Linked DNA regions of Homo sapiens. The protein of the gene in region 2 purifies or fractionates together with the protein of the main gene of each other region. This does not show direct contact. Each region holds a gene or a part of one and is shown on either strand. Other genes may lie near its edges. The genes, in order: DNAJC10, ZNF283 and HCLS1.

Region 1 (3,651 bases), on a different chromosome or scaffold from region 2:
AAATAGCCGCCAAAGGATATAATGATCATACTGCTGCCAACAATATAATGTCAAAATATGTAAAGGAAGAACTGACAGAAATATAAGAAATAGATAAATCAATGATGGATGGTAGAGATTTTAATACATCCCTCTTAGAAATTATAGATCATGTAGTCCAAAAACAAATAACATGATTAATAAATCTGATCTAATAAATGTAATACTACACCTAACATATATTACACCTAACATAACATTATTATATTCAAGCTCACAAAGAATTTCCAAAATTTTCAAAACTGACAATTTGTGTGGCTTTGTCAAGCCACAAAGCCACAAAGGGTATTTCAATGGTGTTAAAAAATCAACATCACTCAGGCTACTTCCCAGCCATAACATGAGAGCTATATACATTTAAAAATGACTAAAAAAGAAAACAACAAAAGATAAAGTTGGGAAATGACAAAAACACTAACATGTAACTTCAGTTGAAGAGGAACTTATAAATTACAGAATACTTACAAAGTAAATGACACTTAGAATTGATACCACGTTAAAATTTATTGAACGTAACTAATTATTCAGGAAAAAACACATAGCTATGAATACAGTCATCAGAAAATAAGATTACAAATAGGTGAGTTAAATGTTCAAGAAATAAGGGAAGAAAATGTTTCAAATCAATTTCTAAATGTGTTTCTTTACATGGTGATATAGTTTTACAAAATGATTGATGCTTACCAACATGCCACTAAGCCTGAGTCGTGTCTGTGAAGTCAAACAATCTGGGGACAAAAAAACCTTATGAGGCAGTTTTACCTTTATTAAGCCTGATGAAAATACTTGCATTTGCCTTTCCCCCAAATTACCATGTTCATTCGAAGGCAATTAATTGAGCTGGACTCTATTGATAGATATGGAAATCCTTCTACACACACACACATACAAACACACACACAAAAACACACACACACTCCCTCGCTCCCTCTTTCTTTCATTCTCTCCCTTTAATTTCTAGGATGTCTAGCTACAGAGAAAAAGTAATTTTCTCTCTTTAGGTTAATACTCTCAATCTCTCCTCCTATCAACAATCCATTTTATCCAAGAGATCTCAAAATTGGGGGGAAATAAAATGTAATAGATATTTGATAGAAGTATATAAAGGATCCTCAAAATACAATAAAATCTTTAAATAGTGCCTTCACTATTTTTATGAAAGTTCTGCAAATATGAACACTAGAATACAATGAGAGAAGATTTAGAAGAAAGAGAGCTATAGCATCACAGAGCCTACAAAGACAGGGAGAAGCAATTTACTTGAGGTGAGAAGTAAAAGAATCTCAGAGAATGTAAGAACTTTTGTTCATGTGTGGATGAACAGAAATTTGGGCAATAGGCCAAAATGAGACAAAATCCCTTGGTGATTAGTTAAGTTTAAGGCTGACGTTTTGCTGCAAGGCAGTGTCTTTCTAGCATAGGCCTTACAGGATGGGGTAATGGGTTGATTTTAGTTACAAGGCAGTACCTTTTCAATATAGCAGCATGAAGGCTGAGAGATGAAATGTGGGGAGAAGACTCATGTTGGGATTAAATACATGCAAATACATTGAGTTATAATATTTTGTTGTCTTAGAACAATTTTTAACCAACCACATTGCTTGAACACAGTTTACAGTTTACGGCTTGCTATGCAGAGTACTGAATTTTCAACTTAATTTATTCAAGGAAAGGTTCCTAGAAGAAGCTGTCATCTTCAAGTATATAATTGTATGAGGCAAATCTATGTATGTTTGAGAGATATATATAAGCATGAAGCAAAGTCCATATTTCCAAAAAATTATTATTTTGGGAGGGGTTAGAGCTGTAAACAACTAGTTATTTTTGCAAATTGTCAAATAACATCTGTGGCTATCTGAAGGTACAATTTATCATGAGTCTAAGCTGAAAAACTGGTCCACTGAACATAAAAACATAGAGGATACATTAAAAAATGAATAATAACCTCATGTGTAAAATAATGAAAAAGGCGAATATTCATTAAGTAAAAAAATTGTAATCCTGGGCATAAATTGTAGTTTCTAGTACTTAATAATCAATTACAGTAGCATACTTAAAACTGTCACCAAAAATTTAAATGTCATGTTCTCATTCCAACAAAATTAAAAAATAGTATTACCTCCTCCTTTTGAACAAAAAGTGATCAGCCAGCCAATACCAGCAGCAAAAGCAGTTTGTATGGAGTTGACAAAATTTCCTTAAAAATAAAAGAAAAAAAGCAAATTCTGATCACCTATTACTCCTTTACTAATGGAAACAGTCTTCTAAGTAATTTTTCCTTTCTAATCTCACCCTCTTCTAATCCACTCTGAGTTTTACCAGTTATCTTTCCAAAGATACTCTTGAGTATGACAAATTCCTTCAATGGCTCTCCAATTTTTTCATCATATAAAACCTAAATTCATTATTTCATTAAGAAAAAAACTCAAATTGGCAAGTTAGGCCCCTGTGACTTGAGCTTTGCCTACCTATTTAGCCAGCTATATTATATTTCCCCACACCACTTGACCCAATTATTGATCTTTTTGTCAGATTCATGAAGTATTGCCAGTTCCCCAAATACACAGTGATCTCCTAAGGCTTCCTATTCATTTTCATGACAGATTGGATATGACTTCTTTCAAGAAGTATTTTCTAACTCTTTCTCTTTTCCCCAACTGGGTTGTTTTACACATCTTATGCTCCCTTAAGCTCTATAATAATAGTACCTATATTGCATTTTAATTGTTTACTAATGTTTTCCTCACTAATGAAGTCACTGATGGCAGGGACTATATATTTTATTACTGCAGCCCCACTATTTAATAGTTTCTGACACGTAACTTTACTCAATGAATAAAATGAACATCTTGAGCCACAAATACTATTATTAGCTTAATCTGCCTAAAGGCAGTTAATGAGTTAAAAGCCTAAGATTAGAAGCATTTTTAAACTTTAAAATTAAACAGAATAGGTTTGAATTTACTGATTGATAAGCATATTTAAAAAAGCAATAAAACACTTGTATTACAAAACATTTTTTGCACTTTGAGAGATGCCTTTTTTACCGTAGCCCTATCTCATATCCATTTCCCATATCTCGATAGTTCAAGTTTCTGTAAAAATTTAACTAGTTTGTTAAATTCAGCAGAGTTCAGAGTAAATGACACAATTCCCTTCTAAGAAACATGGAAAAGACACTTTAAAATTTCAATACCATGACCAAAATGTTAATATTGCCATTAAAAACAAAATACTGATTTCAAAATACCCTGAAAATCAAGCAAATTAAGAAAATAAAATTACCTGTCCAAAGTTCTGTCACTGTACTTCTAACATGCTGCATTGCAAAACTCACTAAACTCTCCTTTGATCTGTCTCCATGATATTTCACTGGGGCCTATTGGTTTTTGTAAGAAGAGAAACATCTTTTACTTTTTCTTTTTAAAACTCAATAAAAATAATACCAAAGAGTTTGATTTTTACATTATCTTGAATAATGCAGCAAAGCTCTATTTCTCAATAGCAGAATGTATTTCCAAATGATATCCTGATAATCTTGACAGTACAGATTCTATGGAACACATTTTAATAATACCATTTATAATCGTTCAGGTTCCTCACTGGAAACTA
Region 2 (4,250 bases):
CTGGTCAGGCTTTGTGGCACGTACCTGTAGTCCCAGGTACTCGGGAGCCTGAGGTGGGAGGATCGCTTGAGCCTAGGAGGCCAAGGCTACAGTGAGCCATGATCATGCCACTGCACTCCAGCCTAGGCAAAAGGCCAAGAACCTGTTTAAACAAACAAACAAAAAAAGTGTTCCTGTCCTAGATCATTTGAGCATGTGGTCACTTTTTCGTGTCTGTGTGTGAGACAGTCTTGCTCTGTTACCCAGGCTGGAGTGCAGTGGCGCGATCTCGGCACACTACAACCTCCGCCTGCTGGGTTCAAGCAATTCTCCTGCCTCAGCCTCCCGAGTAGCTGGGACTACAGCCACCCGCCACCATGCCCGGCTAATTTTTTGTATTTTTAGTAGAGACGGGGTTTCACCATGCTGGCCAGGCTGGTCTCGAACTTCTGACCTTGTGATCCACCCGCCTCGGACTCCCAAAGTGCTGGGATTACAGGTGTGAGCCACCGTGCCCAGCCCCCACTTTTTTAGTTAATTTGCAAGCACCCGTCACAATCAACTTCATACTTCTGTTACTCTAATCTATAAAAAGTTTATGGGAAATAATCTAGAAGAGCCCAATAATAGCAACTCAATATTCAGTAAGCCCATATCATGGGGATGACACTGCTCTACGAAGCTTTACATATAATATCTCATCTTACATCATATCAACTCCATTAGGTAGGTACTATCCTGTCCCTATTTTATAGATGTGGCACAGAGGGCCTGAATCAATTGTCTAAGCACACACAGCTACCAACAGGCAGAGCCAGGATTTGAATTCAGATACTTTGGATCCAGAGCCTTAATTTTTTTGTTGTTGCTGTTTTTTCGAGATGGAGTCTCTCTCTGTCACCCAGGCTGGAGTGCAGTGGTGCAATCTTGGCTCACTGCAACCTCCACCGCCCGGGTTCACGCCATTCTCCTGCCTCAGCCTCCCGAGTAGCTGGGACTACAGGCGCCTACCACTACGCCCAGCTAATTTTTTGTATTTTTAGTGGAGACGGGGTTTCACCGTGTTAGCCAGGATGTTCTCGATCTCCTGACTTCATGATCCACCTCCCTCAGCCTCCCAAAGTGCTGGGATTACAGGCGTGAGCCACTGTGCCCGACCCCAGGGCCTTATTTTTAACTACAACATAGTACGGCTTCTTACATGCCACAGAAAGCTGGACTTCAAACAAGTCATGCTTGGAAATGTTACAGATTTCTATCTAAAGATTATCTGAAAGTCCCCACTCTTGTTGGTGCAAATTACAAATCCCTATGTTCAAAGCTCAATCATATTTCCACCCCTAAAAGCCTCACAAAGCAGACAACATTGTCATTTACTGCCAGAAACATTCCCTTACTTAAAATCCCTTATACCTTGCCTTTCTTTAAGCATCATGACTATGGGCCAGGCATGGTGGCTCACACCTGCAGTCCCAGCACTTTGGGACGCCAAGGCCAGAGGAACACCTGAGCCCAGGACTTCAAGGTTGCACTGAGCTATGACTATACTACTGCACTCAGCCTGGGCAACAGAGTGAGACCTTGTCTCTAAAAAAAGTTAAAAAAAAATTTTAATTATGACTACAGAAAAGATAAAAAATAATGTTTATATAACACCACCTAATTACTAATCTCTTCAAATAATCATAGTATAAAATAATGCTCTAATAGCAATCTACAAGAGGTGCCTTTCTATAACTCTTCAGTGCATCATAATGCACTGAAGTATTTGAACAATTTGCCATATGAACAGGTGGGTAAGAATTGTGGAGAAGAACAATAGGGGGCCACTGGGAGGAAATATGTACCAGCATGGCGGGTCATGTAACTGGGAAAACCCAGTCAAGATATTTCAGGCCAAGGAAAGAAAATGTTCTCATGACCTAGAAGCAAAGGTAATTGTATGTGTATGTATTTAAAAAGTATGTATAAAAAACCTCACCTGAACCTTGATTTCTAAACATGCAAAAATCCTTTTCTCCTCTTCAAACTCCTTCTTAGAAATCTGGCAACCTGGCAGCACTGGGGGAAAAAACAGTAACATGAGACATCAGCATTTCTAGCGCGTCACAGACTTAATTAAAAAAGAAAAAGAAGAGCAAAACACCCTCTGGGGCCACTTCTGCCTTCATCCACACAAAACCAAACGGAATGAAAAGGGAGGCTAGAGTCTGTCTCTGTGTTGAGGGCAATTCTTGGGGACAGAGGTCTGCTTGCAATGGCTCTGAAACATGTAGCTCACCACCAAAGAGCTCCTAGAGGCCCCTCTTCTAGGAATCCCACCTCTAGAACTTCCCCATCAGGTCTTGACAAGATCCTGTCCCGCGGACACTTCCAGATCTAAAATTCTCATCCTTCTTGCTTGAAACGTTCATTATGGGGCTTAGCATAGACTTCTTTCTTGCGGTCATTTAATTGTGGCAGGCCCGAAGACAGGCTAAAGGGAACCTAGAGCATTTGGTCAAAGCAAATCACATTTACAAATACGGCCACGCACCCTGTCAGCCCGTCACACATTCACAACTGCACCCACCTCCGTGGGGACACGCCCCGTCCCTGCCACGCCGTCTGAGACACACTGTCCCTCGGCTGCTCGCGTGCACACAGGCTTGAGGATCCGGACACGACACGCTCTGTCCGTGACCCAGCCCTCCCCACCTCCAGCACCCCCGATGCCACCCCCACCCTCACTGCCGGTTCCAGTCGGGCCCCAGTAAAGCCAGCCGAGCCCTCCCAGCTTCACCCGGGCTGATTACTTCTACAGACACGACCAACTCACCATGCAGAGTCCAAGAACCTTAAGGACACCGGAAAAGGACCCAGAGACCTGTGGTTAGTTTGGACCCAGAGGCTGATGGGAAACAAGAGCCTGGAAATGCTCGCAGGCTGGGAGAGGAGCTTCTGGCAGGCAAGCTCGCCCCGCCCCTAAAAGGCCTGTGCCCCGGAGACTTCTGGGAAATGTAGTCCACAGCGGCAGAGTCTCCGGAAGTTGAAACCTGGACAGCAGGGATGCTCCCAGCATGCAACTTGGCTTCACCTGTCAAAGGCGCTTTTTTCGAAGACGCCCGGGAGCTCTTGCTTTTGCTTGAGGGTCTTTGGTGTTGACTGAGAGCGAATTAAAAGGTTCTCAGCTTTCGCTAAGGAACGCATTCTGGAGTCTAGAACAGGCGAAGATGGGACTGGGGTGTCTGGGGACTTAGACGTGAGCGAGCAAGGGAATCCGGGGTAAGTTCGCTGGAAATGACCTGCGCGACACTACCAGTTTACCTGGGTATGAGCGCCTGGAACAGTGTCTGGCAATTGAACAGATGGGTGTGTCTTGCTGTGAGGGAGTTTCTTAGTTCGATTCGGTGTCTGGGACCCTGCGTGGACCTGTTTATGTTCATGGGATGTTTTCTAAATTTATGCCTGTGTGAGTCTGTTTTATTAGGTGTGAGATGAACTGTGTTACAGATTTTATATGCCGCTGTTGAAAGACAACAATAAGTGGTAGTGAGTGGATATTGTGACCGTGGAGACTTATGGCAGTGCAAAGGCGGCCATAAACAATGCACAAGCAATCCAGCATGGCTGTGTTCCAATAAAACTTGATGGATTATAAAATTTGAATCTCATTTTTTATAGAGTATGAAACCATTTATTCTGAAGCACACACTCATACTCCAAAAACAATACTATATATTCCCTCTCTCTCTCTCCTGTGTGTTTGCGTGTGTGTGTGTGTGGGTGTGTGAGAGAGAGAAAGGTTTTAAAGGAGACAACTAACTGATTCTGAGGTTAGGGCAAAAAGATTGGGGCTGTGGTTGGTGTGGTAAGAACCTTTGGATATAAATACTTTTTTAAAAAAGAATTGTCTAAAAATATTAAAGCGAAATTTTATATTAAAACTAACAGAAAGAAAAGGAAGTTACTTTTTAGGGGCTCTTTCTGGTCACTGATATCACCTCTCTCATCCTCTGCCATCTCTCACCTCCTGGTCTCTCTTGCTTATCAAGAGAAGACTAGAGCTCTTGGATCCCAGCTTTTCCCCTGCCTCAGCTGAGGCCACTACCCTGGTTGACTCCCATGGTGACATGGATGCCTCATCCAGTATCGTGGGTCTGAGTCCTCATCTGCAGGGTCCTTGAGCTTTCCTCGGCACCCATCCCCGTTTCCCATCTGGGACTTCATTATCATCAGCATCTGCTCCACCTCCAAAACCACTGGTGGAAGCAGCCTCCTCTCTTCCCATG
Region 3 (3,154 bases), on a different chromosome or scaffold from region 2:
CCCACAATACCATGCCCAGCCATTGCTCAGGCTGATCTGTTTTGGACTGGGTTTAAAATGCAGCCTAAGGAGGCCAGGTGCAGTGGCTTATGCCTGTCATCCCAGCACTTTGGGAGGCTAAGCGGGGGGCGATCATCTGAGGTCAGGAGTTCAAGATCAGCCTGGCCAACATGGGGAAACCCCATCTCTACTAAAAATACAAAAATTAGCCGGGCATGGTGGTGCACGCCTGTAGTTGCAGGTACTCGGGAGGCTGAGGCAGGAGAATCTCTTGAACCCAGGAAGTGGAGGCTGCAGTGAGCTGAGATCACACTGCGGCACCCCAGCCTGGGTGACAGAGCAAAACTCCTTCTCAAAAAAAAAAAAAGTTCAGCCTAAGGAAAAGGCCTAGTCTTTGACATCTAGGGTACAGGGGAATTGGCAGTGGTAAGAGAAAGTTTCCTGGATATGCCTGGAAGAGGAAAGGTTGGAGCCTTAAGATTTGAGGCCATGAGGGCCACACAAAAAGTACTATTTACCTCAGCATACAGGTGAACCATAGTCTCACTTTATTTCGAATTTTAGGACTGAACAGAAAGAAGGTTCAGATATTTCTTCAGGGAAGGAAAGTGGGCAAATAGCACAATGAGGCAAACCACACAATCTAGACGTACTTTCCCGGGTAAACAAACTGGGAAGCCCAGAGCTCACAGAGGAGGAGAGCAGAGCTTGGGGTGGCAGAGAGGTGTTCATTGGGAAGGAGTCAGGAACACAAGAGAAATGTTCATGAGCTCATCCAGGATAGAGAGGACTCTTGGGGAAGGGGACCTCCTTCCCCATGCTGTCTCTGCCCCAAGCCCTTAATGAAGCAGGAGAGGGAAGTCTGTCCAGAACCTCATCTGGTTAGACATTTGCAGCAGGAATAGGGAGGGGGTGGAGGCAGAGCCACTTTGGACATGGGAAATCACAGTTGCAGTAGACAGTGAGCTCTAGTCACTCCAGAAGCTTGACATAATTTGCAGGGAAGAGTCCAAAGTGGCCATGGCAACGTCCCCGCCACCAGCCCTCGTCCACCATCTCAATGTCAGTGATTACGTCGTCCGGATCAAAGGAAAGCTCATCACTTCCCTCTGGGGAGAAAGTTGAGGGGATATTAGAATGGTCAGACATGAATCTCTTTTCACATGTCCCCCTGTCTTATATCAGGGGCCTCCATGTACCAGGCTCCTCGGGCCACTCCCAACCTACCTCCTTGGTAATCATATACAGCCACAGCTGAGATCCCCAGAGCCACAGCCCCAGCCCCAGCCCCAGCCGGGCAGCCTGATGATCCTGCATAATGAGAAACACAAACATGGGATCATCAACATGAAGAAGGCAAACAGAGAAAGATCCTACTGGGGCAATAGAGAAATTCTTCTTCCTCTTACCCTCCCCTGGACATGAGCAAATTCTCCTGCTTCTCCTCCCATCACTCACCAGCCAGAGCAGAAGAAAAAGAAGAATCTTCAGGCTCGAGCACCTCCTCATAGTCCCCCTCTGGTTCATCCTCCTGCTCATGCCTGTCCATCTCCTCAACGTCCTCATAGTCATTCTCAGGCTCGGGCTCAGGCTCGGGCTCAGGCTCAGGCTCTGCTTCGTACACTGGCTCTTCCTCCACCTGGAGGCCTTCCAGAGTCCTAGGGGGCAGAGCTGGGGGCTCCTCATTGTCCTGAGAAGAGACAGTGTGGAGCACTGTGACTTCCACTTTCCAGGAGGAATCAATGGAGGACTGATAAGATCCCCCGCCCTTCACCACCCTGCCTCTTCTCCCCTCTACCCTTGCCTCCATCTAACAGCCTCTCCTGGGGAACACAGCCTTTCATCCATCTTCATTCTTCAATCTCCTCCCACACCCACCCACCCAAAACACATTCCAGAGACAATGGGAAGAGAATGTAAAAGGTGTGAGGGGAGGGAAGTAGAAAACAAGTCAGATTCTTTGGGAGACCAAGAAAACATTGAAGCAAGAGCACATTGTTGAGCTACCACAGCTAGGATAATCATCTATACTAGTTTGCCCAGGACAGAGGAGTTTCCCAGAAGGCAAGGTCTTCAGTGCTAACACCAGAACAGTGCAAGGCAAACCAGGATGGTTGGCCACCCTGCACAGCCCACATTCCTAAGACTCGAGAAGATGGGGTGGGGGCAGAGAATCTTTGGGGGTTTGCTTACCTCCGGGAGAGTCTGCCTAATGGGCAGCAAGGGCACTGGGTGTTCCCTGCTGGTTCTCACAGGCTCAGACTCTGATGATGGAGGAGTCCCAACTGGAGGCCAGGCCTGTGGAAAATGAAGCATCTCTCAAGTAAGCAAGCCTCCATCTTCACTCCTTTTTTTTTTTTGAGATAGACTCTCGCTCTGTAGCCCAGGCTGGAGTGCAGTGGTGCGATCTCAGCTCATTGCAACCTCCGCCTCCCAGGTTCAAGCGATTCTCCTGCCTCAGCCCCCTGAGTAGCTGGGATTACAGGCACACGCCACTATGCCTGGCTAATTTTTGTATTTTTAATAGAGACAGGGTTTCACTATGTTGGTCAGGCTGGTCTTGAACTCCTGACTTCCTGACCTCGTGATCTGTCTGCCTTGACCTCCCAAAGTGCTGGGATTACAGGCATGAGCCACCACGCTCGGCCCATCTTCATTCTTTTTATTTTATTTTATGCATTTTTTGAGACAGGGTCTCACTCTGCTGCCCTGGCTGGAGCACAGTGAGATCATAGCTCACTGTAGCCTCAAACTCTTGGGCTCAAACAATCCTCCTCTCTAAGCCTCCCAAGTAGCTGGGACTATAGGCACACACCACCATGCCCAGCTAATTTTTTAATTGTTTTTATAGCGATAGGTTCTTACTATGTTGCCCAGGTTGGTCTAGAACTCCTGGCTTCAAGTGATCCTCTCACCTTGGCCACCTCAAGTGCTAGGATTACAGGCATGAGCCACCACACCATGCATGTCTTCACTGTTACATTTACCAGGAACACCCTCTCCCACTCTCTGCCAATTCAAATGGAACTCATCCCTCAAGATGGGCTCCAGCCTGAAGTGACGGCCCCTTCCTCATAGTTCCTACAGCAATAATTGGCTGTGCTGGCTGGTGACTTGCTTTCTGTTGTACTATGTAAATCTTGAGGGTTTTTTC

The links.
Region 1: the proteins of ZNF283 (region 2) and DNAJC10 purify together in Homo sapiens (co-immunoprecipitation; one large-scale study listed by IntAct). This does not show direct contact.
Region 3: the proteins of ZNF283 (region 2) and HCLS1 purify together in Homo sapiens (co-immunoprecipitation; one large-scale study listed by IntAct). This does not show direct contact.

Annotation. Positions count from the first base shown.
Region 1 is NC_000002.12:182,729,615-182,733,265, reverse strand, and holds part of DNAJC10 (dnaJ homolog subfamily C member 10 isoform 1 precursor), read right to left. Parts: intron 3,419-3,651; coding exon 3,325-3,418; intron 2,237-3,324; coding exon 2,159-2,236; intron 768-2,158; coding exon 724-767; intron 1-723. UniProt on the Homo sapiens protein: Endoplasmic reticulum disulfide reductase involved both in the correct folding of proteins and degradation of misfolded proteins.
Region 2 is NC_000019.10:43,825,992-43,830,241, reverse strand, and holds the start of ZNF283 (zinc finger protein 283), read right to left. Parts: upstream 2,922-4,250; 5' UTR 2,798-2,921; intron 2,626-2,797; exon of another isoform or gene 2,552-2,625; intron 2,467-2,551; exon of another isoform or gene 2,261-2,466; intron 2,041-2,260; 5' UTR 1,961-2,040; intron 143-1,960; exon of another isoform or gene 25-142; intron 1-24. UniProt on the Homo sapiens protein: May be involved in transcriptional regulation.
Region 3 is NC_000003.12:121,630,874-121,634,027, forward strand, and holds the end of HCLS1 (hematopoietic lineage cell-specific protein), read right to left. Parts: intron 2,299-3,154; coding exon 2,194-2,298; intron 1,691-2,193; coding exon 1,459-1,690; intron 1,312-1,458; coding exon 1,228-1,311; intron 1,110-1,227; coding exon 973-1,109; 3' UTR 526-972; downstream 1-525. UniProt on the Homo sapiens protein: Substrate of the antigen receptor-coupled tyrosine kinase. Plays a role in antigen receptor signaling for both clonal expansion and deletion in lymphoid cells. May also be involved in the regulation of gene expression.